3 linked regions of the Homo sapiens genome follow. The protein of the gene in region 1 purifies or fractionates together with the protein of each later gene. This does not show direct contact. Each region holds a gene or a part of one and is shown on either strand. Other genes may lie near its edges. The genes, in order: RNF157, CHD1 and ATRN.

Region 1 (9,703 bases):
GCTGCTGTCAGACAGGCGGTCAAGAGGCGAGATCGTCCTGACGGGGGGCAGGTGGCCATCACTGCCATATGAAGGGAGCATTCCTGAGAGGTGGCCATCTCCAAGCACGTGAAGTGGAGGAACTGCTGGGGACGGGGTGAGGGGCCCGTTGAGGGCCTCCAGAAGAGATACTACTTCATAGCCTGGTGGAATATTCTCTGAGGACTAGGGGAATCAGAGACAGGTTGAAAAATTAATTAGGTCCTTTTTGTTTTATGACGTGATCATGCTACTTCTCTACACTGAAAAAAATGTTTTATATCTGTTCTTGGGGGGGTCTGGTAAGAACAACTGTACTAGAGGCAGAGATAAAATATCAAAGAATCACACACTGTAGATCCTGCTTATTGGTAAGCTTTTTCTTAATAATCTCTATTTTTTTTCTGATTATAATGGAAATTTGGAAAATACATAAAAGTAAAAGTAAGGAAAAAAAATCACCAGTAATCAAATCACCCAAAGTTACTTTTGTTAGCATTCTGGTGTCTCTTCTTCCCATTTTTTTTCTGTGTACTATTTACACAGTTTTGATCAATCTGTAAATAACAATTTTATATTCTGCTTATTTTATTATACTTTCCTCTTTAAAAAAATAGAGATGGGATCTCACTATGTTGCCCAGGCTGGTCTTGAGCTCCTGGTCTCAATTGATCCTCCCACCATGGCCTCCCAAAGTGCTAGGATTACAGATGTAAGCCACCATGCCTGGCCAGAACATAAATATTTTCCTTTGTTTCTGAAGCCTCTTTATATATGTCCCCTTCTCATAGATCCCCTAAGTTTTCTAACTATTCTCCTAGTGCTGGGAATCTAGTTGTGTCTAACACATCCTATTGTAAACAAGTTTTGATGAACATCCTTGAATGCCTTTTTTTCAAATTATGTTCTTGTTATTAAATTATTAGCTCTTAGATGATGAGGTATAAATGTTTTTAAGGCCTTGATATATACTGCTGTTTTCTGCTGTTTTTTTTTTCAGTGCCTTTTCTAGTTACACTCCTATAAGTAATACAGAAGACCTATTCTGACTGCTTCCCCGAAAGCAGGGAGAATCGCTAAAAAGAAAAGTTTTTAAAATTTGAAAGTTGGAAAATGGTATTCTCATATTTGCATATCATTGATTTTTAATGTGGTTGAACTTTTTAAAAAATTCTATGTTGAGTGTGTTTTGTTTATGCCCTTTGCCCTTTTATCTACTGTTTTATTCAATATGAACTATGGCAAAGACATTAGCTTTTCCTCTGATACACACATTGTAAATAGTTTTTAAAAAAACACTATTTGTTGTCTAACTTTTAATTTTGGTTACCTTTTAGACCTCTGAAGTGCTAAACTTTTTAGGTGGTAAAATGTATGGTTCTTGCTTTCAAGCTTAGAGAATCCTTTCCAATCCAAAGTCAACTAAATAATCATCTATAATTTATTCTAGATTTTGAATGTTTTGCTTGGTTTGCTGTAATGTTTGTTTGGTTTGATGCTCTTAATATAGTTAACTAGTTACTCCAGCTGGAATTTATTTGGTAAGGAGTAAAGTGCTAAACTAATTTTTCCTCCTGAAATAGCTAACTAATTATCCCAATACCATTCACTAAATAATAATCTCTCCCAGCAGTGCGTTAGTCTAAAGAAAGACAGTATCTGCTGCTCTCTAACTGCAAAGCTTTGAGGTTTCACCCTAATATCAGCACTTACACTAGGAAACTGAAGTCAGTTACTTTATCTCAGGCACTGAGGCCACAAAACAGGATAAAGAAAAACAGTTACTTTCTTCGAGGATTCAAATAAAGATAATAAATTGTATTTAAATCCAAAATAATCGTCCCATTGTTTCTGCCTGGGGGAGTTCAAGTTGAACCTCACTGGAGTGAAACTGCAAGCAGATGGCTCTAGGAATGGTAAACATTAACTGGACACCAAGTTCCCAAGGAGGAAAAGGGAGGTTTTCAGTATTCAATTTTCCACAGTAATAAGTTGGTTTTAACGCATGCTCTCAGCCGGCTTGCTAAATACTGCAGCATGCCCTGGTCTAATTCCTTGCTGCAATGCCACGTAGAGAAGCATGAAAAGTTTAAAAAAGCCAATGAGGCATTTGCTTCAGAGGGGCCGTGGTTCCGAGCCCAACTTACTGGATGCTCTTCAGAGTCAGATGTCTGGGATGAGATGATGGGGTTAAAGCTGGTTGGGGACAAGGGGCCCAATTTTTTCCTCATGGCTCGGATCTGAAGCAGTGCCCGGAAGGCTGTGAAGGAGAAAACAGGCAATCAGGACATCCTGATACAGGATTAAGAATGAACAAGAGCCCAGACAGAAACCATGATCCCTCCCAGCGCGCATCCGTTTGTCAGATCCAGCAGCAGCACATGCTTCAGTGTTTTGTAAATGTCCTCTTGTCCCCTCTCCCACCCACCAGTCCCCCTGCCGCTCTGGGGCTTACGCAGTCGGCAGATGGGGCAGTTGTTGGCCTGGTAGCGCAGCGTGTCTGCACAGGTGTTACAGAGGCAGAGGTGGCGACAGGGCAGAATCAAGGTGTCCCGGACATCCGAGAGACACACCACACACTCGGCACTGTTATCACTCACTTCGTCTTCAGCCACCTGGCCAAGGAGAAAGAAATGTAGCCAATGGCACAAAGCCCTTCCTGTCCCATACTTTACTGACAAGGCAGCGTGGCTGAAGAGCTAAGATAAGTAATAATTACGAACAAAATCTGCATTGACATTGGACTTTGTCATTTTCCCAGTGCGTCCACACACTTAGCTTCACTTCTTCTGGGAAGTGTTTATCTAAAATTGAGAGGACGAGACTAACCACTCGAGCTCCTCCTATAAGGCCCAGAGCTGGGCCTCTCAAATCTCAGCTGAAGGGACTTAGGGGATCACACAGATAAAGGAAAAGGAGCAAAGAAAGGGCCCTGGTGGAAACCGAGTTGGACAGAGCTCTGTGGCAGAACAAAGCCAAACCAGCCTACTTTTCTCATTTCCAAAGTGGTAAAAGCGTAATGATCTGAAATGAGGAACAAGAAAATACCCTTCTAAGACCTAACTGATTTCAGAGTTTGGCACGCTAAATTTCTGGACGCTGGCTTACGATTTCTCACTTGGCCTCCTGGAAAGAGTACATTCAGAATTTTGGGTAAAACTTACCTTAGAATCTTGTGTGTTGTACTTGTTTTCAATTCCATAGATCTCCTGAAGGAGGTAGCTGACCCCGTCTACCTGAACAGCAAACAGAAAGGTTCAAGGACAGGCTGTCTCTACTGAGAGACAAGAGTGGGAACTCCCTCCAATCTTACCTCTTTTGGTAACCAAGGACTACCGATTCATAATGAGAAAAAAAATCAAAGGCCTGGATAAGTAAAAGATGCTTTTATTTACTTATGTTTTCTCTTTGAGAGAAGAAAGAAAATCAAATATTTAATTCACCCATCATTATATACAACAGGGAACATAAAATTTCACAAATACAATAATAATACTTGCACTGCAGCATACTATTATGGACAATTAAGAAGGCACAGACTAGAAAAAGGATGGAAGGGCATGCATTAAAATCTAGGCATTTGCTATATAATCCAATTTGAGTTCAGACATTATACAAATAAAGGAATGGAAAAGAGAAAGAAAAAGAAGAAGAAGTTGGCAAGGAAAAAGATGGGAAGGGAAAATATGGATGCAAAGGGCGATAGCAAGACCTTGAGGGAGAGGCTAATGGTGTGTACCCCACACCATGAAGCCACCCCATCCCCAACATGCAGCAAAATTACACCTCTTGGCCCTGTTTCCTTTTTTTTTTTTTTTTTTTTGAGATAGGGTCTTGCTCTGTCATCCAGGCTGGAGTGCAGTGGCACCATCTTGGCTCGCTGCAACCTCCACCTCCTGGGTTCAAGCGATTCTCCTGTCTCAGCCTCCTGAGTAGCTGCGATTACAGGGTGTGCACCACCATGCCTGGCTAATTTTTGTATTTTGTGGTAGAGACGGGGTTTCACCATGTTGACCAGGCTGGTCTCAAACTCCTGACCTCAAGTGATCCACCTGCCTCAGGCTCCCGAACTGCTAGGATAACAGAGATGAGCCATCAAGCCCGGCCAGCCCTGTTTCTTAAAACCCCAACTACCAAGGCCCAATCCCACTCCCATTAACCTGGGCCATGTCAGTGTCTAAGTTGGCCCTGCCCCATTTACTTTTAGGAGCACACTCTTCTGCCTCACCTCTGTTTCTTAGCCATCCCTTCCCCTAAGACATAGCCTGTCGCTGATTTTATATCCCACTCTCCGTTTTAACAGTCTGTTGCTAATGCCAATCTAACAAGAGGAAAATGGACAAACCATCTTCCTCTAGCTACACGAGCCTTTCCATCCCATCCAGGCCTCCTGGAGAACCAGGCCTTCCCCCATGAGGCAACTCACCAAGGCCTGGCCTGCCCAGGTAGTGCCCTGGGCCTGAGCCCAGGATCTGTTTCCTCCTCTGCTGCTCTTAAAACTTGTTTTCATGCAGTGATTATATTGGAAAACTAATTTATCCTAAGATATTCTTATTATTGACCTCATTAAAAGAGAGGCGAGTAATTAACCTAAAAGAACGAACAGTGTAGAATTTCAGGTATCTATCACCCATCTACAGGAAGGCTTTTCTTTGCATCTCGAGGAAGCCCAACCCTGCCTCCTACCCAGCTGCTCTACACCCTCCGTGAGATGACCTGCCCCTCACCCACCCTCCCTTGCCAATGCCACTGGCACCACTCTCTCTCCTCCCAGTGATGTCTCCTCCTACCTCTACAAGAGTGGAAAGAAAAGTGCTGGCACATGGTAGGGGCTGGGACTTTCTAGCAGACATATGCACAAGGTGCTGATCATTCTGGAAGAGGGAGAATGGATGGCTAACTTTGAATTTTAGAAAAGGAATGGATAAATTAAGCCAATGACTCTAATTACACTAAATTGGACCCTAATGCTTTATCCTTTCGCTTGAAATGTTTCTCACTCTGGCATTTTAAATAAAAAGAGTTCTCCCTAAACCCAATGTTGGGAAATAAATCTTGTTCTTTCATTTCTCAAGTCCTTTGCTCAGATAAAGGCTCCCTCAACACCAACACTTCTGGAACAATGAAGACCTCAAAAATCAGCATTCCTTTCAGGCCACCCAAGTCGTTTGTAATAGCTTGTAACATTCAAAAGCACTCCCTTTTTTTCTTTTCTTCTTTGATTAAAAAAAAAAAAAGAGGAAAAGGAGAGAGCAAAAAGTAAAACAAAAATAAAAAAAGAGGGAGAGAGAAGAAGAAAGGAAAGAATAAAAGGAAGGAAGGACCCTAATACTAACAGTCTGTGGTCTTCAAATACTTACTACTTGTTTCTGTTTGAGGGGCTTGACACAGAAAGTTCCATCTGTGTGCTGGAATGAAAATATGAAAGTTATGACAAGGAAGGGAGGGTAATAAAGCACCAGGTATTCTTCTGTTACATCTCCCAGTTACAGTCGCCCTCCCTGATCTGCAGTTTCATTTTCCATGGTTTCAATTACCCGCCATCAACCACTGTCTGAAAATATTACATACAATATTTTGAGAGAGAAAGATCACATTCAGACTTCTATTACCTTATAGTTATAATTGTTTTAGTTTACTATTATTCTTAGTCTCTTACTGTGCCTAACTTATGAATTAAACTTTATCATAGGTGTGGATGTAGTATGGGAAAAACCACAGTGTATATGAGGGTTCTGTACGATCTGCAGTTTCAGGCATCCACTGGGGGTCTTGGAACTTATCTCCTGAGGATAAGGGGGGACTACTGTACACATGTTCCTGGACACTCTCAGAGCAGAATTATACAATCCTAATTCTTTAAAGGTCTTATAATTATCCAGTCTAGCCTTTCTTTCTTTTATTTATTTATTTTTTTTGAGACAGAGCCTCACTCTATCGCCCAGGCTGGAGTGCGGTGGTGCCATCTCAGCTCACTGCAACCTCTTTCACCATTATAGCCTCTAAAGCCAGACCCATTCTGCTGAGCTCAGGCACCCAGCAAACGGGTTACATGTGTCTCACACGAAAGAAAGGGCTAAAGGCAATAAAGCGAGGCCCTCTAAAGTCACTCACCTTCTCAAAAGTACCCAGCAGTACATGGCAATGGCCAAAATACTCTGAAAGAAACAAAGGCACGTGAGTGAAGAAGCCCAAACAGCACATCTTGATGCCCATGACTTTCTCCAGTTCCCTGCAATCTGGCAAACCAAATGTGCCAGTCTGTCTCTAGAAGGGGCACGTTATATAACCCATACTTTTTTTTTTTTGAGACAGAGTCTGGCTCTGTTGCCTGGGCTGGAGTGCGGTGGCATGATCTTGGCTCACTGTGGCCTCCGCCTCCCGGTTCCAGCAATTCTCCTGCCTCAGCCTCCCAAGTATCTGGGATTATACGCATGAGCCACCATGCCCGGTTACTTTTCTGTATTTTTAGTAGAGACGGGGTTTCACTATGTTGGTCAGGCTGGTCTCAAACTCTTGACTTCAGGTGATCTGCCCGCCTCAGCCTCCCAAAGTGCTAGGATTACAGGGATGAGCCACTACGCCCAGCTAAACCACATTTTTTTGAGACTGAGCCTCACTCTGTCACCCAGGCTGGAGTGCAGTGGCACAATCTCGGCTCACTGCAACCTCCGCCTCCCAGGTTCAAACGATTCTGCTGCCTCAGCCTCCCAAGTAGTTGAGATTAGAGGTGCACACTGCCATACCCAGCTGATTTTTGTATTTTTAGTAGAGACAGGGTTTCCCCATGTTGCCTAGGCTGGTCTCGAACTCCTGACCTCAGGTGATCCACCCACCTCGGCCTCCCAAACTGCTGGGATTATACGTGTGAGCCACTGTGCCCAGCCAAACCCACACTTTTCACATCAGCCCAGGAGCTTGGAGTCACAGATGTGAGAGGATGCAGAGACTGCCTGACTCACAGTCACAAACACCCACAAAGAAGGCATGTTGTTCTGGGGCCACAGCTGCTGCCAGGAATATGCCACAAAAGAGCAGTGTGCACAGCCAAAGAGGACAGAAATCGCCCCTACCGTCTCCTTCATCCACCACGGCATGTACCACTAGAGGGTAAACTTCTCGGTCTAAATCAAAGCCAAGCTGAAGGGAAAGAAAAGGAAAGGAAAAAAAAAGAGGACTTAACACATTTACATGGCACAGCTAATCTCAGAAAGGGCGATACTGTCAAGAAGCATTAATCTCATCTCTGCTCCTCATTCTTTAGCCTTGTTAATTACCCAAGTTTGTTAACTGAGGGCCATCAGCTGCTTTTTAAAAATGTCATAGATGTAAATAAGAACCTCTAACCTATAGATTTTTTTTTTCTTTGAGCATGGCTTTCTCAAAGTATCCTAGGCTAATGGGCTATTTCCATTCCTAGGGAATGGAAAAATTAACAAAGTTAGGTATATCCTTGATGCAAAATAAGCAGAGCTTTAAAAGGACATGATGAAGTCACAAGGCTGAAAGGTAAGCATGGCCTTCAAGCATCCGAGCAGCCCCTTTGCTGTCAGACCGAGTCCTAAGTAGCCCCTAGGCCCTTCTGAGTGGATGTGGGAAACCCTCCCCAGAGGCAGCTCACCTCCTCTTCGGCCCACTCGGAGGGATCCACGGTGTGGGAGGGCAGGCAGAACTGCTGACACACTCCTCGCTTGTACTGCACAGTCTCCGACTGGAGGCTGTTGTCTTTGGGAATGTAGCTATTGATACAAGTGGGAGGCAAAGCAAAAGTCAGTATCCGGCACAGATGGGTCTGACAACTTCCTCTGCTCATGCCTGTTCTCAATTATCAACAGGGTCTAGCGAAGAGAAGAAAGGGTCCTTTATAATCCATTTCCTTTGCTCTTGCTTGGCAACGTTAAACTTTTCTATTCAACCCACACATCCAAAGAAAGGTAGCTTACTAGATTTTTAACAGCATGTTAAGGACCTGAAGGACTATACCACCATTTGTCACTATACCAAGATGGCACAATTTGAAGGGAAAAGGTAAAGGGTAGGGCTTTGTAGAAGAAAGTCTAAATTCAGGAACCAGATCTCATCTGGCTGCAGAAAAAGAATGTTTTCCGCCCTTGCTGAGTGGATAAGACATGGACTCTCCCTATCTGGGAAGGAAGTGGCTCGCCTGGTCTCCTGATCTTACCTGGTAATACCATTCTGGAACTCTTCCGTGGCCTGGTAATAATCTGGGAAGGAAGTGGCTCTCCTGGTCTCCTGATCTTACCTGGCAATACCATTCTGGAACTCTTCCGTGGCCTGGTAATAGATGGTGATGGCTACCCGAGCATCTGTGTCAAAGGTGAACTCAACATTGTAGTGGACTTTAGCTTTACTGGCCTCTTCTCCAGGGCTCTTCACTTCCTCAGCACATCTAGAAAACCAGAGACTCAGCATTTGCAGAGTAGCATATCAATATTTTAAAATTTACCTTTAAAAAAATTAGCAATATATTGTGGGCTTCTCTGAATGATCATAAGCATAGGTCTACCTCTTCATTCTGAATGATCACAGAGTGCTTCATGACCCATGTTGCTGGGCATTCAGGTTACTTCTGGTATCTCATAGTGCTACCACTACACCATTGTGCATTTGGCACTTTTGTTTTTATTTTAATAAAAGTTATTAATCACATAGTTTAAATAGTTTCCTCAAGGCAAAAAACAGCAGGCCTTACTTCTTCCCTTTCCTCGTCTTCAGAGGACACCCCTTTTAGTGATCATTTTGGCATTTACCCACGTTTCTAAAAAATATACTTGGGTTACTACTTCTTGATTTTTCAGTTTCAGGCGCTATCTATGGGTTTCCTACTATGGAAACAAGGATTTCTTTCTCTTTCCTCACTGTGCTCCATGTAGGAACTCCGCCATCCCCCCAGTGTAGCTGCATCATGATTTTATTATAATAGTCCAGTACATTTGTGTCTGTATTACTGTGATTACACAAACTTATAATCTATGATTATTTTTCTTTTCCTGCATAACTTTTTCTTAGTGCTCATCCTATTTTTTTTTTTTTCTTCCAGTTGCGTAGTTTCCTATGTACTCATCACAAATTCCAACCCAAGCTCTCTGGGGCTGTCTAAATCTCTCAAGACGTTCAGATGCACCAAGCGGTCTATTCATTTCATCTTATTGAGGAGGTCCCTTGGACTTGCTCCCATCTGTACTTGGCCCTCTGCACCTGGCTCCCAGTCGCCACCCTGGAATCTCTCTCCCCCTCCAACATCCTGGTGGGTCCCTTTTGCCTCTGTCCTCCTGTAGAAGCTCATGTTTCCTGCACCTCAAGTCTTCCTCTGTCTTGGGTTATTCTTTCATATCGGTGGAGCACGTGTCCTGCCAGCTTCCTGAAAAAGGGTGTGTTGGGAAATAAACTTTTGAGAGCTATTATTCAACATTCACACTTCACTGAAAGTTTGGCTGAGCAAAGTATTCTAGATTATAAATAATTTCTAAAAGACACTGAAAGCCTTTTCACTGCCTTATTTTTCACCTCCCAGCGTTGCTCCCAAGAAGTCTGAAGTCGTTCCAACTGTTGATCCTTCTTCTTCTGAAAGCTTACAGACGGTCCTCTTTCTCAGCCACTGTGTGGGCACTTGGTGGTCCTTTCCATTTAGAAACTTGTACCCTCTGGTTCTGAGAAGTTTTCT
Region 2 (10,434 bases), on another chromosome or scaffold:
ACTGTGTAACTCCTCCTTATCCAGTTCATCTTCCTCTACCTAGTCAAAAATAAACTGGAATTCTTCACTGCACACACTTAGGCTGTCTTCCAAGTTTACTTCATGAATACTCAAGACTTTAATTTTTCCCTACACACTTCACACTTAACAGCTTTAATTTTCAGTCTAGACTTCACTTAGCTCCATGGTTCTATCCAGAAACCTCCTGGGCAATTCAAAGGCATCAGAAATTCTGTAAGTCTTTTTTTTTTTTTTTTTTTTTCCCAAGACAGAGTCTAGCTCTGTCGCTCAGGCTGGAAGGCAGTGTCACGATCTCGGCTCACTGCAACCTCCGCCTCCCAGGTTCAATCCATTCTCCTGCCTCAGCCTCCCAAATAGCTGGGACTACAGGTGCATGCCACCATGCCCGGCTAATTTTTTAATTTTTAATTTTTAGTAGAGATAGGGTTTCAACGTGTTGGCCAGGATGGTCTCGATCTCCTGACCTTGTGATCCACCCGCTTTGGCCTCCCAAAGTGCTGGGATGAGCCATCACACCCGGCCCAATTCTGTCTTAAACCAAACGTAATGATCTCCCTATCTATACATCTCCAAATACATTACTATATAAGTGAATGTCATTCAGCTGCAAATGACTAACATCCCTCCTCCTCCTAACCCTGCCTGAATCCAATCCCATCAAGTTTTGTTACCCTTCCCAATTCTACTTCTCTCCACCTCCATTACACTATCCTAGTCTATCATGTCATTTCTAACCTCTCTTATCTGCCAAAGACTCCTGACTTAATTAGGAATACTGTATCTACTTCAACCCACATCTAATCCTTCTTTGGGATTTATACCTAAAGTAAAAACTTTCAATTTGCCAGTCCCATCAAGCTACCACCCAGTTTCAAATCCTTCAATAGCTTCCTCATTGTCTTGAAAAACATACTTCACTTAGCCTTTGGGCCTAGTGTCTATGTAGCCTCATCTTGTCCAGCTGCTGTTTGCTCCAGCAGAACCATGCTTCTTAGAGTCCCTTATAGATAGGATGGCCCTGCAATTTACTATCCAAACCTGAACACTTCTGAAAGTGAATACGGCCTGTTCTTGGCAAACTGGCAAGTGCACTGACGTGATCTCTCTGACCCCAGAATCTTTGCCCATGTTGTTTCTTTTACCCAGAAAGCAGCTCTTGTACTTCCCTTTCTTGCCTACCTAATTCATATTAATTCTTCAGCTCTAGACCACAACGATCACGTCACTTCCTTGAGACTTTTCTGACTAGGGTTCTTTATTATGGATTCTCACAGCACCGTATGTCTCTTCATACTATTTTTCTAAGTTGTCATTTTATAGTGTGACTGTGTCCTGAACTAGGCTTTAACTTTGAAAGTGTTAGTTTTTGCTGTATTATAATCCCTCCCTACCCTCAGCAGAATGTCTGGTATGTAATACATTCTTACATTTGTATTGAATGAATATCAATACAATGCACTGGGGCACAGTACTCTTTGCTCAAGGACCTCACAATGTAGTATGGAAACAAATGCTATATTGTGATACAATGACATGCCGCACTTACAGAATACTCAATTCCATGTCCTAAAAGGGAGGTCAGAGAGTTTTCTGACAAGTCTTATAGGTTGTCAGCACAATTGTGTCAAGGTACTCAACAGTTCTTGAGCATTTACTTAAACGAACTTATGAAAGACTGACCCATAAGATAAATGGGTTATATCCACTTACAATGAGAGATACCTTTCCAGTGACCTGAAGAAGTGTCTAGAGTACCAAGTGTCCATTAGGAATGATGAGAGGCAATACTGAGATTAGTCTGTGAAAAAATTAAGTAACTAAAATACTAGGAATATATGATATGTACATACATCTTCATATATGTTTAGTTTACAAATATATGTGGTATATAACAGGGGACTGATTTAGTTAGATTTCAAGTTTGAAGGAAACCTAAAGGATAAGCTGAAGGGAAAGATAGAGAAAATAGAGGCCTAAACTAAGCCCGGTAGTGGGAGTTAAAAAGAAAGGATGAATACAAAATTTCTGCATTAAAATGAGTGGTACCGTTTGTCCCTCAGTATCTGCAGAGAATTAGTTCCAGGACCCCCATTTACCAAAACCTGGGGATGCTCAAGTCCCTTATAGTTGAGCCTCTGTACCTGCAAATCCCTGCAGGTACAGAGGACCAACAGTATTTGGACAGCAGTGAATAAAGAATCTGGGCAAGGGCTGGGCATGGTGGCTCACACCTGTAATCCCAGCACTTTGGGAGGCTGAAGCAGGCAGATCACCTGAGGTCAGGAGTTTGACACCAGCCTTGCCAACATGGTGAAACCCAGTCTCTACTAAAAGTACACAAAATTAGCTGGGTGTGGTGGCGCGTGCCTGTAGTCCCAGCTACTTGGAAGGCTGAGGCATGAGAATCACTTGAACCCAGAAAGCGGAGATTGCAGTGAAATGAGATAGCACCACTGCACTCCAGCCTGGGTGACAAAGTGAGACTCTGTCTCAAAAAAAAAAAAAAAAAAAAAGAATCTGGGCAAGGAAATGAGTGATACAGCATCAATGCAATAATTTTTAAATATTTTTGAGGTTGGCTACTTAACCTTCTTTCTTACTCTGCGTGCACACTTAATTTTTCAGTAGAGGATGGAATCTTTGTATCTTCTTCAATGCCTATTAGATTTTATACATACTTGCCTCTTAGTATCATCTCTAACAATTTTCTGTTTGAAATTTAGCTTTTAGTGATTCAAGAATTTATCATTCAAAATCCCCAAATACAGTGACCATAAAGAAGGTGGATGAGCCGCTGGTAGATATCAGAATAATCTGGGAAACTTCCCAAATACTACCTAGAACCTAGAAATTCTGCATATCAGCAGAGGGGAAGAATAGGAGTGTCAGGCACGTGTAGTTACAAAAGAACTTTCCAGGTGACTGAGTCCTATCCCTTGCCCAACACTGGGAACTAAACTCCTCTAATTTCTTATTAGGAAAACAGAAAATGTACAGCAAATCTTCACTAGAAGATGACTTAGGATTTCATGGTTTCTATTCAGAGGACTTTGTAAATTTAAGAATCATATTGGAAAGACTTCCTCTGGTTTTGCAAGGACATGGGAAATACTGTCACAGGTTGAGATTCTAGGGTATTTTAATAATGTCCCGATTGTTTTTGTGGTTTCTCATATGCAAATCCTCCAGGCAACAAGGACATAATTATGGAATTAAAATCTTAACCCTGGCATCCAAAAAGCTAACAAAGGAGCAAGTTATCCTGTTTATGTTATATATTTCACAATTCTGGATATGTGGTTCCCAGCCTATCCCCACCTAAGGATACCCATTTAGTACTTTACCTAGTAAAGCATATCACAATTAAGGACCCACAAAATGCTGTCTTAGATTCCGGAAAAGTAATATTCTTTCCAAAGAATATGAAATTTTAAAAATGAGAAATTAAATAGTAACAAAAACCTCCTGGTTAATGTTAATTATGTGGAATTTTTCGTTAGTCATGTGTTGAGATTATCAACTGTTTGGCTATTGTTTTAGTACCACTAAGTAGAGATAAAGCTAGTTTATTCAAATAAAGTGACACTGCAAATTTAACTATGTTGATAACAAATCATCAAAAAGGTATCTTTGGATTACCTACACGCTTTTTAAAAAATGAACTGGCAAGATTGTTGCAATTTTCCACCTACTGTGTACTTCTGCAAAGCAATAAAGTATGATTTTACTCGAAATCTAAATCTCCAATGTTCAATATTTTATTACAAATTGGGCAAGATCTTTTTTCGAATAGCATGTTTGATGGCACAATACGACAGAATAGCATATTCAATGGCACAATTAGTAGTAAAAAAACAAAAAACCTGCCTGACGTGCTTCCGGAAAACGTAAAATAGACTGTATATACAGTAATTCTTTTCATAAGACAATGACAAAATGTCAGAGTTGTAATTGAGGACTTTATTAACTGAACTATACTTCTGATTACAACATTCTGTGTATGTTAATAGTTTCTCTGGAGAAATTACGGGCACAGGAAGTTCCTCTCATTAAGGATATTAACATAAAGCTTAATATGAAAAATTAGCACTCAGTTCAGAAATGACGACTTCAGAAATGACTTCAGAAATGACGATTTGTATGATCTTTTCATTCCTCACAACCCAGTATTAAAACTATCTAATATTGCAAAGGATGGTAGTGTTCCACTTCGTTTTGCTATTCAATTATTGCTGATAGATACATGTTTTCAAAAAGGCCATTGGCATCTGTTTGCTTTCTCCTACTTCTCCAAGTGAATACACCCTTCAATATGTAGTAAATACATATGTGGAGTTATGTTTTGAGATTTTTTTGAAGGATTTGAACCAAACTGTTTAAACAGCTGGTAGCCTAAAACTGGAATATTTCCCACAAGGGAAAAATAATTATTTGGGGAATGTATGTTACCACAAACTCATCTGACTTGGAAAGTGCGCCTTTACACCAAATCAAATAACTGAACAATGGGATTAGAAACTTTTAATTATTATTAACCTCGGCCACCGGGCGCCGTGGCTCACGCCTGTAATTCCAGCACTTTGGAAGGCAGTGGCAGGTGGATCGCTCGAGCTCAGGAGTTCAACACCAACCTAGCAACATGACAAAACCCCGCCTCTACAAACATAAATAAAAAACAAAAATCATTAACCTTGAGTGAGTCAAGTTCATCTGCAGACTGAAAAAAATAAAGTGTAACAGAATTTTGATTTAAAAAACGCTTTCAAAAAAGCATTTCAAAATGCTCTAAGTATGTTTCAAAAATACACTTAAAAATATGTTTCCAACACACTGAAGGGATTTAACTAAGATCCACAATTACAGTTACGATACAAACTGTAAGCTAAAAGGCAGCAACTTAAGCTGAGACAGTTACTAACATCCCTCGAGCAGCGTTTTTTGTTGCGATTCGGCGCCGCACCCGTCACCCCGCCCTCCGGGGAGGAACCTAGAAAGGAAGGGTGGTACATTTCTAAACCAGGCCACCCACACATGAATCAAGCGGCATCACAGGCTGTCAACAACCGGGTCTCTATTTTCTCTCCTCCTCCGGCGCCCCGCCCGTGCGGGACATCAGCTCCCAGGATGCGTCAATCGCAGATCGCCCAAGCGTAAGAGGTGGCGAGAGGCCACCACGGTTGCCCAACAGTTGCGTTCCCAGGCTGCCTGGTGTGACGCAGCAGCCCCCGCCCGGACCCTGAGGCCTGGCGCTCCGACTGAGCCGAGGCCTGTGCTACCCGACACTCCTTGCGACCCGGCCCCTTAGGCTTATTCAGCGCGGCCCTTCCCGGCTTCCCGAGTCCCATCGCAGTCTCTCCCCACCCCCGTTCCTCCCCGGTTCCTTGTCAGTGTCCGCCGCGATGTCCTTGCGCAACCATCCCAAGTGACATTAGCGCCCATACCCGCACGGAGCGAGCCTGAAGCTCCCACTTCCCGGAATTCAACGCCGGGCCGCTAAGGGCGGGCACCCAAGCGAGGATCAGCGGACTAAGGCCGCGACCAGAGTCCAGCGGTCTCCGCGCAGTCAGAGTCCGACAGCCTCTGCGCATCCGCCGTGCGCACTCCCATTCGTGCGCGTGCGCGCACTCGCCCCCCCCGCCCCGCCCCAGCACCAATCGCTTTTTTCCTACGCCCACGACCCTTCAACGTAGTCCCTCCCGCCTCCCGCGCGCGAGCAGAAAGGCTTCGGCGTGCGCGCGCCCGCCCGCCTCGCGCTCTGTCGGGAAGGGGAGTGAGCAGAGGCGCTTACGTCGCGCGGGAGGCGGAGGCGACGGCGACCTCGGTGGCGGCGGCGGCTACGACGGAGACGGTTGCGCTCGCTTGCTTTCTCGGCGTCATGGCGGCTGCCGGGGGCAGATAAGCGGAGGGAGCGGGAGCGCGCGCGCGACGGCGGCGGCGGCGGCGGCGACGACTGGTTACTTATAGCTCTTGCTGCCCTCGCCCTTGGTGCTTCAATAATGAATTGTTAGCTCCACTCCGCAGGGGATCGCGCGTTGGTGCTGCGGACCGGGGCTTCCCCTTCCCCTCCGCGTCTGTCCCCTTCCCCCTCCCCCGCACGGACTCTTGCTTACCCCGAGACGCCGGAGCCCTAGGACTGGGCGGCGGAGATCCCGGGCCTGGGCGCGGGGGAGGCCGTCCACCCGAGTCGGCTCCCTCCGCCCCGCCAAGCCCGCCGGTAAGAAAGGGGGCGGCGGGCGGGTCAGGATGTGGCGGAGAGGACAGGAACCGGCCGGGCGGAGGGCGGGCGCGGCGCGGTGCCCAGGCGGCGGCCCAGCGGCCGGGTGAAGGCCGGGTGGCTCTGTGAGTGCCGGTGGCGGTGTACGGGCCTGGCGCGCAGGGGGCGTGTGAGCGGCGAGTACAGGCCGGGGCCGCAGAACGCATCCTTGCGCCGGCCCGGCGGCCCTGCCCCGGCCTCTTCGGCTTGGTGCCGACCGGGCCGCGAGAGGAGACCCGCGAATGGCTAGCACTTAGCCGGTGCGTGGGTCCTGCCGCGACCCGGGCTCCCAGCACGTGGGGAGCGGCGGGAGGGGGAGGGGGCGGCGGCTCGGGCGAGCCTGGGAGGGCGCGGGGCGGGTCTGCGGGAAGTTTGAGGCGGGAAGAGGGACTCCTGGACCGGGATGGAGGCCCTGGGAGAGGGGGGCAGGTCCGCGAGGGAGGCTGATTGGAGCGCGCTGGATGGATGAGTGAGGATGGTTTCCAAACCTCTTTCGAGTGCCGCTTTAAAAACTTAGCAGGAGCAAAGCAACTGCTAAAAGACAGAGGATTGAAGAGGTTTAATAACTTAGGGTAGTCATTGTGGAGACGCTTGAGAGGACACAGCGCTGTGTGCGCTTGGAGCTTCAGAACTCAGGGTTGTGAAAAGGGTCTCAGAGGACTTATTCGGATAAGGGAGATGGAGGGGAAAGGAAGTTAAAATGTACAGAGAAAGCCATTTTGAGGGACGAAAGGAAGGTGAAAAGGAAAGAACGAAAAGGGGAGTGAACTTTTTAAAGGAAGAAACGGGAAAGGCAGTTTGTTAACATACTTAGATTTTTTAAGACTTAATTGTTCAGTAAGGCACTTTGACTAGGGTTGAGATTAATATTTAACATTAGGAATAAATGTTGAGTAGAACGGTTACTTTTTAGATAACCTGTTCTTGCAGAGTCTACTGGACAGTAGTCTAGAGAATTAACATCCTGATCCAGATGCAGACTTTGCTATCATTGAGTTGGTAACAATCTGTTTCCCTCCCTCTCTTGTGGAATGGAAATAATCGTAGGAGTGAATTCTCTTTGCTGAGGTCGGAGGACAGCTCTGCTCTCAGTTGGCTGTCTCGGTACTTTCTGGCTGGGGAAGGATCTGACGTCTCCTTCCCCCGCTTCTTCCTCTCCCTCCCCTGCCAGAGATCTCCTTTGTTTATTCGTGGATGGCTTGTAGGTGATTCTTCAGTGTTGTACTGAAATCTTTAAAGGTGGAAATGGTGTGTCTTGGTTCATTATTCTTGCCCCAAATTTTTTACGTAAAAAATCAGATATAGTGTATATTCTATTACCTTTTCAATTTTTTTCACAAAATAAAAACCAAGTGCAAACTGGTTAAGTATTATTTAAATGTTATCATCCCACTATCCGTTTACCTGTTAAATAACACATTTATTTTGAGCTATGCATTTTTGTTGAGAGTATATGGTATCTTTTATTTGCCTGTTCCTCCCATGGGAGCGTTTTCAGAACTTTCTCACTCAAGTGTATGAAGTTCTTGGTGATAGGAGTGAGGGCTTGATTAAAGGTAACCTCCTCCCACCCCCCCCCCCACTTCATTTATTCGACCAAGTTATCTAATAAGACTCCGTTATCTACTCTTGGGATGTATGCATATGTTACATCGTATCACCTTGCTTTAGGAGTCTATAAAAACATTGTTAGTTGCAGTTAGTCTCTAAAAATCCTTTCACTCCACAAATATTTTAATTTTTTCTGTCCGAAGTATATTAGCAGTAGCATACTAAATTCTAGTTAGCAGTCAGGAGTGTAGTTATTACAAGTCTAGATATTTTAAGTATTTAATAAAAGGCCCCCACTTCTTCCTTAACAGCTGTAGTCTAATTGGCCTACGTAGATTTATACGTTTTAGACAGGGCTTAATTTACCTTTTTTCTGCAGGAAATTTTGTTAATTTATTAATATATTTTCTTTAGGTGAATCAAAGGAGAGTCCCAGAAAACCTGTGACTGTTGAAGAAAATTCATCTGTGAATTTTTATATTCAAGGAGTCAGTATTTATATTCATCTTTTAAACTGGGAAGATTTATATTTTACTTTAAAACTTCTTGATAATAATTTACAATGAATGGACACAGTGATGAAGAAAGTGTTAGAAACAGTAGTGGAGAATCAAGGTAAGTAAGCACTTTGTTATCAATTGTTTACTATGAAGAGAGTTGAAAACTTGACTTTTTTCTTTATTGTTATTGTTGTTATTTAGTTTTCCTCATAGGTAGCAGAGTTTTCAGGTTTTCCTCTTAGCTATCCAAATACTAAAAAAATTCTGATATACGAACCTTTTTTCATAATACAGGTTTTAATTATATTTTTCATTCAGATACACAGTAGATCTTAAATATAGAAAGTTTTTGTTTACTTAAATCTATTTGGAAGTTTATATTTGAGCTAATAATTAAGCTGGAGCATGTATAATAGATTTAAATTGTTTTGACTGTTAGTGAAATTTCTAGATGAAGGCAATAAAAATTTTTTCACTCATCTTTTTCTGGCATTTTGTCTTCTATACCTGTACTGTCCAGTGTGGTAACCACTAGCCACATGTGGCTATTTGAACTCAATTACAAAATATTCAGAATTTACTTAGTCATACTAGATATATTTCAAGTGCTGAATAATCACATGTGGCTAGTGGCTACCATATTGGACAGCACATAGAAAACATTCTATCACTGGAGAAAGTTTTAGACAGTGCTGAGCCAGACATTTGTTGAAATATTACTGTGGCCCTTTTTTATTTTCAGATTGGAGTTTTAATTATCTGTGAAGGAGTTAAGAGTTCTTGCTTGGGTCAAGTGTTTGCAAAGAAGATTCTTTAAATTCTGTAGCTCTCAAATTTTGAGTTATCTGCACATTAGTTTACAATCCATGTAGTTATATGCATTATCATATATAGAAATTAGGAATGTGGGCACTGGAGTCAAACTGTTTGCTTACCCTATTTCTACCTCTTATTAGTTGTGTGAATTAGGGCAAATTACTTAATCTCTGAGGCTCTGATTTTTGCCCCATAAAGAGGGGATTAAACTATTGTTTATCTTATTTAAAGTTCACGGCTGGGCTTGTTGGATCCTGTTTGTAATCCCAGCACTTTGAGAGGCTGAGGAAGGAGGATCACTTGAACTCAAAAGTTGGAGACCAGTTTAGGCAGCATAGTGAGACTTTGTCTGTAATTTATAAAAAATAAAATTTAAAAAAAATTTGAGGATTGAGATGCTTCATGTAAAGGGCTTAAAATATTTTCTGAGATAATGAGCACTGAATATTTGCTTATTGTAACCAGCATGTTTTGTGTAACACAGGATACTATATAAAAAAAACATTAATTACAGTGATGGAGACATGGGGGTGGACAAGAAACAGGAAAGTTTTGGCAATTAGGAAGATTAAGAAAAAATGTTAGATAGAAAACTAAATAGTGGTATTTGTATTTGATCTGAAACTTGGACTTTTCTTTTTCTTTTTTTTTTTTTGAGACAGAGTCTTGCTCTGTCGCCCAGGCTGGAGTGCAGTGGTGTGATCCCGGCTCACTGCAACCTCCACCTCCCAGGCTCAAGTGTTTCTCCTACCTCAGCCTCCGGAGTAGCTGGGATTACAGGCGCTAGCCACCACTCCCAGCTAATTTTTGTATTTTTTTTGTAGAGATGGGGTTTCGCCACATTGGCCAGGCTGGTCTCGAACTCCTGGCCTCAAGTGATCCACCTGCCTCGAGCTCCCAAAGTGCTGAGATTATAGGCATGAGCCACCACGCCAGGCCTGACACTTGGAATTTTCTGACCTTGCTAGTTATACTTTAGTTTATCAGCTTTCATACATACTGTTTGGATAAGCAAGAACATCATAGAGAATAAAATAAGGAACAGTTATGGAAAGCAGCATTATTACTTGAACAAGTATTGGTCTAGGAGTTATACAACCTGAGTTGATGCTATCTCTGCATTAATTAAAACTCATATGATTGCCTCAACTCTAAGGATTGAACTGATATTGAAGTTTCATTTTAATTAATTACAAAGTGCATCGTAAAGTTTCAAACAGTAAAGTTTTACTAGAATCACCAGAGTTGAGGTTTAATTAAAAGACTTTTGAATCTGAGCTTTGATTCAAATCT
Region 3 (10,127 bases), on another chromosome or scaffold:
CCAAAAGAATACTTGGACTAAATTTTTTTTTTTTTTTTTTTTTTTGAGATGGAGTCTCACACCCTCGCCTGGTCTGGAGTGCAATGGCGCAATCTCGGCTCTCTGCAACCTCCGCTTCCCGGGTTCAAGCAATTCTCCTGCCTCAGCCTCCCGAGTAGCTGGGATCACAGGCGCCTGCCACCATGCCCAGGTAATTTTTTGTATTTTTAGTAGAGACGGGGATTCACTATGTTGGCCAGGCTGGTCTCAACTCCTAACCTCTTGATCTGCCCGCCTCAGCCTCCCAAAGTGCTGGGATTACAGGCGTGAGTCACCGCGCTTGGCCTCGACTAAAATTTTATTGAGTTTTTGTTGTTGTTGTTGTTGTTTTGAGATGGACTCTCGCTCTGTCACCCAGGCTGGAGTGCAGTGGTGCGATCTCGGCTCACTGCAAGCTCTGCCTCCCGGGTTCACGCCATTCTCCTGCCTCAGCCTCCCGAGTAGCTGGGACTACAGGTGCCCGCCACCACGCCCGGCTAATTTTTTGTATTTTTAGTGGAGACGGGGTTTCACCAAGTTAGCCAGGATGGTCTCGATCTCCTGACCTCGTGATACACCGCCTCGGCCTCCCAAAGTGCTGGGATTACAGGTGTTAGCCACCACGCCTGGCCTACTGAGTTTTTTTTAAAAGACCAGAGTCATAAGTTCCTCCTACTTTCATTTTTAAAAATGCAAAATCCCAAAGCCCACAAAATATAATGGTATCATCAGGACCAAAGTCATAATTGTCTACCCAGGAAACAGCACTGACATCACCTAGAATCAGCTCAAAGGGAATGTCCACAATAAGCAGGGGAGTCCCTTCACTCACCTGTGACACTATTTGAGACAACCAGTGTCAGGACTGCCTGTTCCCTGCAACAAGTAGCTCTTATCCAATCCTCTGGGCTTTCCATGTGGACTCTCAGAGAGAGCTCCCTGGCAATCTCCCTCATAGGTCGATGACTCCAAACTTAACATCTGCCAGGTGTGTACTCTGAGAGCACCCCAAACTCAGCATGCATGCAATTAAATGTCTAACACCTGCTCCTGTGTCCCTGTGTCTGTTAATGGTATCACTGTCCTCTCAACCACCCAAGACAGGATCTAGTTTTCTTTCCCTCACCATCCCCCACCTTTCCAAGAGCAAACCAGTTTACACGGAAGACTTGTCCATTTCACCTCTACAAGCTCTCATTACCACTGCTCTGACCCATGCCAACAGATCCCACCTAGCTGCCCCCTATCTCTCATGCCCAAAGTGAGTGTACCTACTCTGAACATTACAGATTGATCTTGCTATGAAGTCCCCTTCCCACACCGCTGGTCCCCACTGCCTACCACAGTGTCCCAGGTTTTCAGAACTTGAAGGATCCTCGTCTGACTCAACCATCCATTCACCTGACCTTGGAAGCTTCTCAAATGGAAAATGCCCTGGCCTCACCTTCAAGGCCATTTGTATTCTGGCTCCAATCTAAAAGCCTATAATGTCATGAAAATAGGCGTGAACTACGCCATTTCACAGCTCTTGGGCTAAAGGTCAAAATTCTCAATCCAACCCACAGATCTCCACTTGGCCTGGCTTCCCGCCTTTCTCTCCAGTCTTGCCAAGCTCCCCTTTGCTCTCTCTGCTCCTGCCACCTGGCCTTCCATCCGCTTCAACCCCAAGCCTCTGTACCTGCTGGCCCCTCAGCACCCCACCCCTCACGCAGGTAGTACCATCTCACCCCTCAGACTTCACATCGCTTCCTCAGTGACTTACCTTACCCCTAGACTAAGTCAAGTCCTCTGTTTGTCTCCTGCTCTTTACCTCCACAGCCTTAAACAAAATTACAATAAAATTTTTGTTGGATTTTTTTACTCCCAAGCTGAAATGTGAGCTCCGTAAGAGCAGGACTGTGCCTGTCTTGTATACCACTGTATCTCACAACCTAAAACATAGGAGCCCTCAACAAATACATGTAGGTTAATGGAATTCATAAATCAGAACACCCTAAGTTACAAAAGCAGCTTCACTGCATCAGTGGTCCTGAAGTAACTTGGTTTCTCCATCCATAAAACTAAAGAGCTCATCTGCTCAACGTTCTCTGAGTTCCTCAGAAGACCTAATATTACCTAAGTCTACAATTTTGCTATTCCAAACTCCTCTCTCACAACTCTCTTCCACATAGGCAGCAGCAAAACTTTACTTTCCAGCCTCCACAACTTTGTTTGCACCCTTCTTTCCATCTGTAATTTTTTTCCAGCTCCACATTTCCAAATCCTACTTAACCTTACATGCTCAAATCCAATGTTACCGCCTCCTCAAAGTCCTCCTTGCATCCCTCCAGCTAGCCACAACCTCTCCATCCCTGAATTCCCACAAGTTCCCTGTTGCCTCATTCAGGTCTCAGATCAAATGTCATTTCAAATGAGAACCCTCTCCAAGAGTCACCACCGGTTATAATTCTCTATCAGACCACGCTGTTTTTATTTTCTTGATAGCATTTACCATTACCTGAAATTACCATGTTTATTTCTCTCATTTATTTACTTGTTAAGTGCCTGTTGCTCCCACTAGAATGTTAAGGTCAATGAGAGCAGAGGCCCTGTCTGTCTTGTTCACATTTCCCCACTCCCCCACATCAGACATGTGTTCAGTAAGCTAAATACCTGTCAAAGGCGTGAATGACTCTGTAACCCTTATGACTAGGGTTATGTGCGCACATTATCTTTCTCTTGCTATATTCCAAACTCCCTGTGGACAAGGCCAAAGTCTGGCTAATCTGTCTGTATTATCTGGAAAATCATTGCACAACTGAAGCAAATAACGATAACTGCTAATTAATTTATTGATTTCTCCAAGAGGAACTGCCCCAAACTAAGCCAATTCAGAACTTCATATTGTCCAGAAACCAAGGCAAATAGGAATCTCCTTCCATTCCCTCTTCACCACAGACCCTATTCCAATTTGCCACCTCCAGGGAGCTTTTGCCAAAAGGCTAGTTTCCTCACTTTCCTTTAGAAGGACCACTGGTCCTTCTATCCCTAATATCTTACAATGCTACCCTTTCCCTTTTATCTCCAGCCAACAAAGCATTTCCAGGGCCCTGTTTCTTCAGAGCACCCCACATCTCCAGTGCATCGGGGAACTCATCGGGTCCTAGGGCACATGTGGATGTTAAAAGGAAGTGTTCAAGCAAACCTGGCTCGACCACCTTTCCTTGGATACCTCGTTTAGCTGAAACACGCCGAGTTTTAGAGCGATCGGCTTTGATGCTCTTTGGGTCCCTCAGCATTCTTCCCATCTAACTAACCTAAGCACCCAAATACCGTCGGGGTGCCCCCACCCTTGCCCCACACCTTTTCACCTTCCAACAGAGAAAGACCCCAGGCCAGAGACGATGATCTCCCCGGAAGCAAATGGCCCTCAAACCCCATAGGGCGGCCCTACCCTCTCCACTTTCTGTCCAGCATCTCCCTCTGACCTGGAGCCGTCTCGAACGCCCCTCAGCCCCAGCCTCTGGTTGGACCCGACCCTCCGACACCACCCGCCACTCACCTGAAGCGGCCCCCGCAGTGCTGGCATTGCTCGCCCACCCAGCCGGCGGGGCAGACGCACTGGCCGGTGCCAGGGTTGCAGCGACCGCCGTTGACACAGGGCCGGTCACATTCCTTGGCCTCGGCTGCGGCTGAGCCCGACACCGCCGCCGCCGCCGCCGCGGCCTCGGCCTCACAGGGCAGCAGCAGCAGCAGCAGCGGCGGCGAGAGCAACAACAGCAGCAGCAGCAGCCGTGGCCGCAGCGGTGGAGACAGCAGCCGCGGGAGGCGCAGCCCGGCCCCCAGCCCCGGCCTCCCAGCCCTGGTCACGTCCCAGTCCCAGTGCGGCCCGCCGCTCCTGCCCGCGAGCGCTGCCGTCGCCGCCGTCCTCCTCCTCAGCCTTGCCTCAGTTGCCGCCGCTGCAGCCACCATCTTCCCGGGGCTGAGACGGCGCCCCGCGAACACATACACACACACCGCACGGCCGGCTCCGCTTCGCCTGGCCGTGCGGGGCGGGGCTGTGCGGACGGTGGCTCGTGCGGTCCAAAGGGGCCACAGCGGGGCGGTGGGCGGGGCCGGCGCGCGCGTGCGCGAGTACGTGGGTGCGTGCGTGCGGGGGCGCAGACAGTGGTCTCCGGCGTCCGCGGCGCCGGAGGCGATCTTCTGACGTGGACCGTAGAACGAGCTGAAACCCGGCTGCGCTGTCCCGGCCGGCGAAAGCTCTAGTTTTCCCCCTTCGCCTTTCGTCCCCGGCGGCGGGGTTGCAGCCCCACTGGATGCCTAGGAGCCGACTGCGTTGAGTGTTGCCCTCCTAGAGACCCGGCACTCTGCCCTAACTCCAGCTGCCGGACGGAAAGGGTACAGGAGGCTGCATCGCAGCGAGGTGCTGGGTGCGGTACTGTAGAAGCCAGGCTTCATTCGAGCCTCTGTAACACAAGAGTCAAGAAAGAACACATGTAGAACCTGGCATAGGCCGGGCGCGGAGGCTTACGCCTGTAATCCCAGCACTTTGGGAAACTGAGGCAGGCGGATCACTTGATCTCTGGGATCCGAGACCAGCCTGGCCAACAGGGTGAGACACTGTCTCTACTAAAAATACAAAAATTAGCCGAGCATGGTGGTGCGCGCCTGTATCCCCAGCTACTCCAGAGGCTGAGGCAGGAGGATCGCTTGAGTCTGGAGAGGTCAAGGCTGCAGTGAGCCGCAGTCGCAGCACTGCACTCCAGCCTGGGCAACACAAGACCCTGTGTCAAAAAATGAAGAACCTGGCATGTAGGCTGTGCTCAGTAAATGCCTAATAAACTGAATGAAGACACACAGCCAGGCCTCTTGATAACAGATGGACTGTAGCTGACCAGACCCCCTACCTTTAATTCTGTAAAAGTTTGGAGTTACCTTGCTCCCCACAATTTGCCCTCCAACCATCTTCTCTGAAGAGTGGGCAATATAGAATTAGGAAATGGCGCTCACACAGACCTGCCCCTTCTTGTCTGGTAGTTGTTACTCTGGTGTCCCTCAATGAGACATGTCTTCCATCAATGTAGCCTTTTATGGTCCTTGACCCTGGAATCTGGGCTGGGTCATGATTGAGACCATGAGAAACCATGACTCAATTTCACCAATAGAAGAAGTTGGTAGGAGTAGCAATGTCTTGTTTCTAGCTCTGAGCTTAAAAAAGACCTGGCAGCCTTGGCCGGGCACGGTGGCTCACGTCTGTAATCCCAGCACCTTGGGAGGCCGAGGCGGGCAGATCACGAGGTCAGAAGTTCGAGACCACCCTGATCGACGTGGTGAAACCCTGTCTCTACAAAAAATACAAAAATTAGCCGGGCGTGGTGGCACACACCTGTAATCCCAGCTACTCAGGAGAGTCGCTTGAATCCAGGAGGCAGAGGTTGCAGAGAGTCGTGATCGCGCCACTGCACTCCAGCCTGGGGGACAGAGCGAGACTCTGTCTCAAAAAAAAAAAAAGACCTGGCAGCCTTGATTTTGAGCTGTTGGTGGTCATGAGCTGCACCCCGTTAGCCACCTTGCTGGAGAGAAACCATGTGCAGAGACCACTTGGACTTGGAGAGGGAGAGCTGGGCCGCTCAGCTGGTGGAGCCATCCTAGCTAAGGGATCAGTCATTGAGTGAAGAAGCTATCTGGGTTGGGTTATTCCAACCGTCTGGGCTGTTCCATGTTACCTACAACAGTAACAGGTCTTTCCTAACTGTGACTTATCCAAAATCCTAAGAAATAACTCATTTATCATTTAACCCTTAAGTGATGAATTATTTATAATTTTTCATAAATTATGATTTATGTTATTTTAAGCCTCTAAGTTTTAGAGAGGTTTGTTACTCAGTAATAGATAAGCAGAACATTGTCCGACATAATGCTTGTGCTATGAGGAATATTCCTATGGCACCTACCTCAGAATCTGGGCACCTTACAGTCCCTGGGAAACAAAGAAAAACCCTCATAGACCTGTGGAGCCTCTCAGCTTTACCTCAGAGTATGGAATTTTAAGGTTCTAAGATGGATTTCCACACTCATACCCAGGTCCCACTCTCATACTCAGGTCCTGACTGTCCTCACTGCATCTTCTTCAAGCCTGGTGAAGCTGAATTGCACAAAAGCCTTACCCCCAGCTCTACATCCACACATACTCCCCATTCCTACAGGAAAACTATTGTTCGGCCTAGGCCCTAGCACTGACATTCTGGTTTGCAGGTTATGTTTTTGCCATGTAGGATTTTGAAATTGAAGACATGGCCCTACCCTCTGGCAGGACCCCATCAGATGGGGAGGCTGGCATAGGCCATGCCCTAGCTGTAGGAGACATTGCTCCCCCTAATCTTCCAGGCCAGAAGTGAACCAGCCCTTTCCTTCCCTTCCCTCCCCACAGCAAGACTGAACCCACACTGTGAAGTTTCACATGATTTTACCAACATTCAGGGATAACAGAAAAGGTGTGCATCTGAAGAACAGCAATCCCTAGACTAGATATTGCTACTCTGAAGCCTTAGAATCTTGCTGCAGCAAACATTCTTTCTTACTTCCTTAATCTACTCTCTTCTCTGGTTCTTTTTCCTTAGCTTTCAAACATGCTCAAATTATTTTGTCCTTAAAAAACAAACACGCTGGGTGCAGTGGCTCATGCCTGTAATCCCAGTGCTTTGGGAGGCCAAGGTGGGAGGATCACCTGAGGCCAGGAGTTTGAGACCAGCCTGGACAACATAGTGAGACCTTGTCTCTACAAAAAATTTTTTAAAAAATTAGTCAGATGTGGTGGCGTGCATGTGTAGTCCCAGCTACTTGGGAGGCTGGGGCAGGGGGATCACAGAGCCCAGGAGTTTGAGGCTGCAGTAAGCTATGTTTGGACCACTGCACTCCAGCCTGGGCAACAGATCAAGACCCTGTCTCTAAAAACAAATAAACAAAGAAACAAAATCTTACCTGCTATCTTCTTTTTCCTTTACTGCGTTTATCAAAAAGTCCCCTACACATTCTATGTCTGTGTGATAGATTAAAGATGGCTGCAAATTCTCTTACATTCCTTCTATGGAGAGATCAGGTCTAACCCTTGGCCCCGGCCCCACCCCCACCCCCACCCCCACCCCACTCTGAATCTAGCCTGGCCTTAGTGATTTGCTTGACTGATAGACTATGGTGGAAGTGATGTACTGGGATTTCTGAGGTCCCAGAAATGGGACTTTATGCTAGGTCATAAGAAGTCTTGCAGCTTCCTCCTGAAGTGTCTTGGAACACTTGCCATAAAAGATGTCCAGCTACCCTGAGACCACCATGCTGTGAGGAAGCCAGCCCCCAGCCATTCAAGTCTTCCCAGTTGGGGCCCCAATCATGAAGCAGGGGGGTGTTGTTCCTGCTGAACCCGCCCCAAACTGCAGATACATAAGCAAATAAATGAGCCAACTGGGGACAGTTCGTTACACAATAATAAATTACCAGAATACTCTGTACCCTGGTTCCTCCAAGGACAAGAATAAGTCTTGTGATGTGGACTTGATTAAGAATTAAGAACGACAGTATAATTGTATATAAATGTATAATCTACAACTAGTCATCTATATGTAATACACTAGTATCATTGTCCAGTTGCTTCTCATGAAGGAGGTCACCGTAGTCACCGTAGCTTCAGAAGTGCCTCTGTTGTACCCCAGTGCCTTATCAGCAAGATTCTGCAGCAGTTCTGCCTGAAATCCCTTTTTTTCCACTGGTCTTTGTCATGGTGGTCATTTCCAGGTCCCAGAAACTGTAATGCCAGTGGCAAAGAATACCCAGGCTTTGATACAAATTACTCTAAGTCCAGACACTAAAATAACATTGTTCTTGCCAACTGCATGACCAAAAGGGTTTGTCTCCACTAGGTTAGTGCAGGATGGTTTGAAGGTGCCTATGCCTATTCTTTTTCACTTAAGTAAGGCATCTTACTCACCTTGGCCCTTTCTCTGATTTCATGTCATCTCTTCCTGTTTCTTTGCTTGCATTGTCTCCAAGTCATGGACATAGATGGATTTTATAATTTTTGGCTTTTACTCATGCAGTGTCTTTGGTCAGATTCCCTAGAAGCAGAACCCTGAAACAGGATCTGAGTGCATAATTCATTGGAAGATTGCTCTCGGAAGAAACACAGTGAAGGAAGCAAGATAGAGCCCAGGAGGGGGTTGAGAAAAGATGTGGTCTGGTCTTATCTAGAGTTGAGCTTCAGCCTGATCCTATGGAGAGCCCTAGAGCATGAATTGTACCATAGAATTGATTCCACTTTGAGGTAAGGGAGCAGCATTTTGTACACACATCTCTTTCAGCAGACAACATTCACAGCAGTAAGAAGGATCCTATAAAGGAAATTTGGGAGGGGTACCAATAGATACAAATAGATAGCTCCATGTATGTGTAATACATATAACAAATGTTTGTTTATCAAATACCTACTAGAAAGCAAAGATTGAATACTGCTCAAGTAAGATCTGATTGACCATCTGACTTTCCCGCAAACATCACCGGTCCTCATTCTGCACTGTTTGAAACATCGATACATTTTATTGTCCCAAAGTTATCCTTATACTTTTAGTCAATGTGTGACCAAGCAATTCTCTAATTATAGGTGTTAAAATCTCACCTAGAAGGTAAGGTACTACGTTGCCTGTGAAAGAGGTTGATCCTGAAGGTTTGGAACAAACACAACTGAGAGGGTTCTAGGTAGGAATAAAGTGCCATTGAAAGCTCCAATGGATATCCCACTGTCAACCAACCAGCAATAAGATTCCAATAGTCCTTGGCAGACTGTAAGAGAAAGTGTTTAGGAGTCCCTGATCTGGGAGCATAAAGTTATACCTCTGAGCTGTTGGCAGAGCTCCTGGTGGCCTCCTCAGACAAGTCCCACAAGTACAGGAGTTCACCTTTATGTCAGCTCAAGGGACAAGACGCTGCACTGGGATGAGCACATCAATTTAAAGGCAGAAGACTTGAAATTTCTATTGGATGAGCTAGATTCATGCCCCCTCCCCCAAATTTCTACAACAGAGAACAAAAATTTTCTCTTGTGTATAGATAAGATACTATGAAAACAGTACTACTGTTAAAAGACAAATGACTTTGCTAAATATGGCCATGAAGTACTTCAAATTAGAAGTTCCCAAACTGAAGCCATCCTTTTGGATTAAAATCCCTTATAATTTCTCCTAATTACAGATGACATATTAGTTTCCTGTGACTGCTATAATAAATTTCCACAAACTTGGTGGCATAAAACCACAGAAATTTAAAAGTTGACAGTGCAGAAGTCCTACTAGTCTGGTTCTTGTTCCCACCTGGGTACCAGCTTCCTTCAGCAGTGTTGGCCAAGGTGCTGGGGGCCAACGAAGGGAAGAGTCAACTTGTGAGAATTTTGCAGGTCTGTTGTTCTTAGCACAATGCAAGGCTAGACAAAGAGGAGAAAGAAACTTACCTGATCAGTGCCAGAAGTTATTGCACTCAAAGGGGAATAAGCAGGAAAAAAGAAAGGAAAGAGGGAAGAAAGGAAAACAAAAGGAAGGAAGGAAAAAGAAAGAAAGAATAGAAGGAAGAAAGAGAAGCCCCACAGACATGAGATGAAACCCTGTCCAAAAATGGAAGGAAGGCCAGAAAATAGTGAACCAAATTTTGAGGAAAAGCCAGAGGAGGAGGAAAATGCAGAAGGAACTTTTAGAGAAAGCTAATTCCATCTCTCCAGAATATAAAGATGTACATAAGAGGCATTTAAGCAATGAAGATATGTTTAGAGAAGTGGATGAAATAGACGAGATAAGGAGAGTAAGAAACAAACTTATAGGGATGTACTGGAAAATTGATCAAAACCATCCTTGCCCCTATTTAATGCAATTTACTTTTATTTTTATTTTATGTGATATTAACAATGCTATATAACTTTCTTTTTATTAGCATTTTTCTGATATACCTTTGTCCATCTTTCTACTTTTAACCTGTTGCTGTTAGTGGCTTCAGATGCATCATTTACCCATATCTCATTGTTTACCATATTTGAACCAATCTTCAAATCTCTTTTATAGAAGAGATTTACTCATTTGTAAAAAAAAAAAAAAAAA

What was found.
Region 2: the proteins of RNF157 (region 1) and CHD1 purify together in Homo sapiens (affinity purification with western blotting; 2 studies listed by BioGRID, with this or other methods). This does not show direct contact.
Region 3: the proteins of RNF157 (region 1) and ATRN purify together in Homo sapiens (affinity purification with mass spectrometry; 2 studies listed by BioGRID and IntAct, with this or other methods). This does not show direct contact.

What each region holds. Positions count from the first base shown.
Region 1 is NC_000017.11:76,159,370-76,169,072, forward strand, and holds part of RNF157 (E3 ubiquitin ligase RNF157), read right to left. Parts: intron 8,429-9,703; coding exon 8,282-8,428; intron 7,758-8,281; coding exon 7,640-7,757; intron 7,159-7,639; coding exon 7,092-7,158; intron 6,177-7,091; coding exon 6,133-6,176; intron 5,427-6,132; coding exon 5,379-5,426; intron 3,255-5,378; coding exon 3,183-3,254; intron 2,634-3,182; coding exon 2,474-2,633; intron 2,279-2,473; coding exon 2,166-2,278; intron 205-2,165; coding exon 1-204. UniProt on the Homo sapiens protein: E3 ubiquitin ligase that ubiquitinates APBB1 for its degradation by the proteasome and thus prevents apoptosis and promotes survival of neurons.
Region 2 is NC_000005.10:98,924,340-98,934,773, reverse strand, and holds the start of CHD1 (chromodomain-helicase-DNA-binding protein 1), read left to right. Parts: upstream 1-5,766; 5' UTR 5,767-6,235; intron 6,236-6,242; exon of another isoform or gene 6,243-6,534; intron 6,535-8,239; 5' UTR 8,240-8,387; coding exon 8,388-8,440; intron 8,441-10,434. UniProt on the Homo sapiens protein: ATP-dependent chromatin-remodeling factor which functions as substrate recognition component of the transcription regulatory histone acetylation (HAT) complex SAGA. Regulates polymerase II transcription.
Region 3 is NC_000020.11:3,464,950-3,475,076, reverse strand, and holds the start of ATRN (attractin isoform 1 preproprotein), read right to left. Parts: upstream 4,060-10,127; 5' UTR 4,005-4,059; coding exon of another isoform or gene 3,970-4,004; coding exon 3,560-3,969; intron 1-3,559. UniProt on the Homo sapiens protein: Involved in the initial immune cell clustering during inflammatory response and may regulate chemotactic activity of chemokines. May play a role in melanocortin signaling pathways that regulate energy homeostasis and hair color.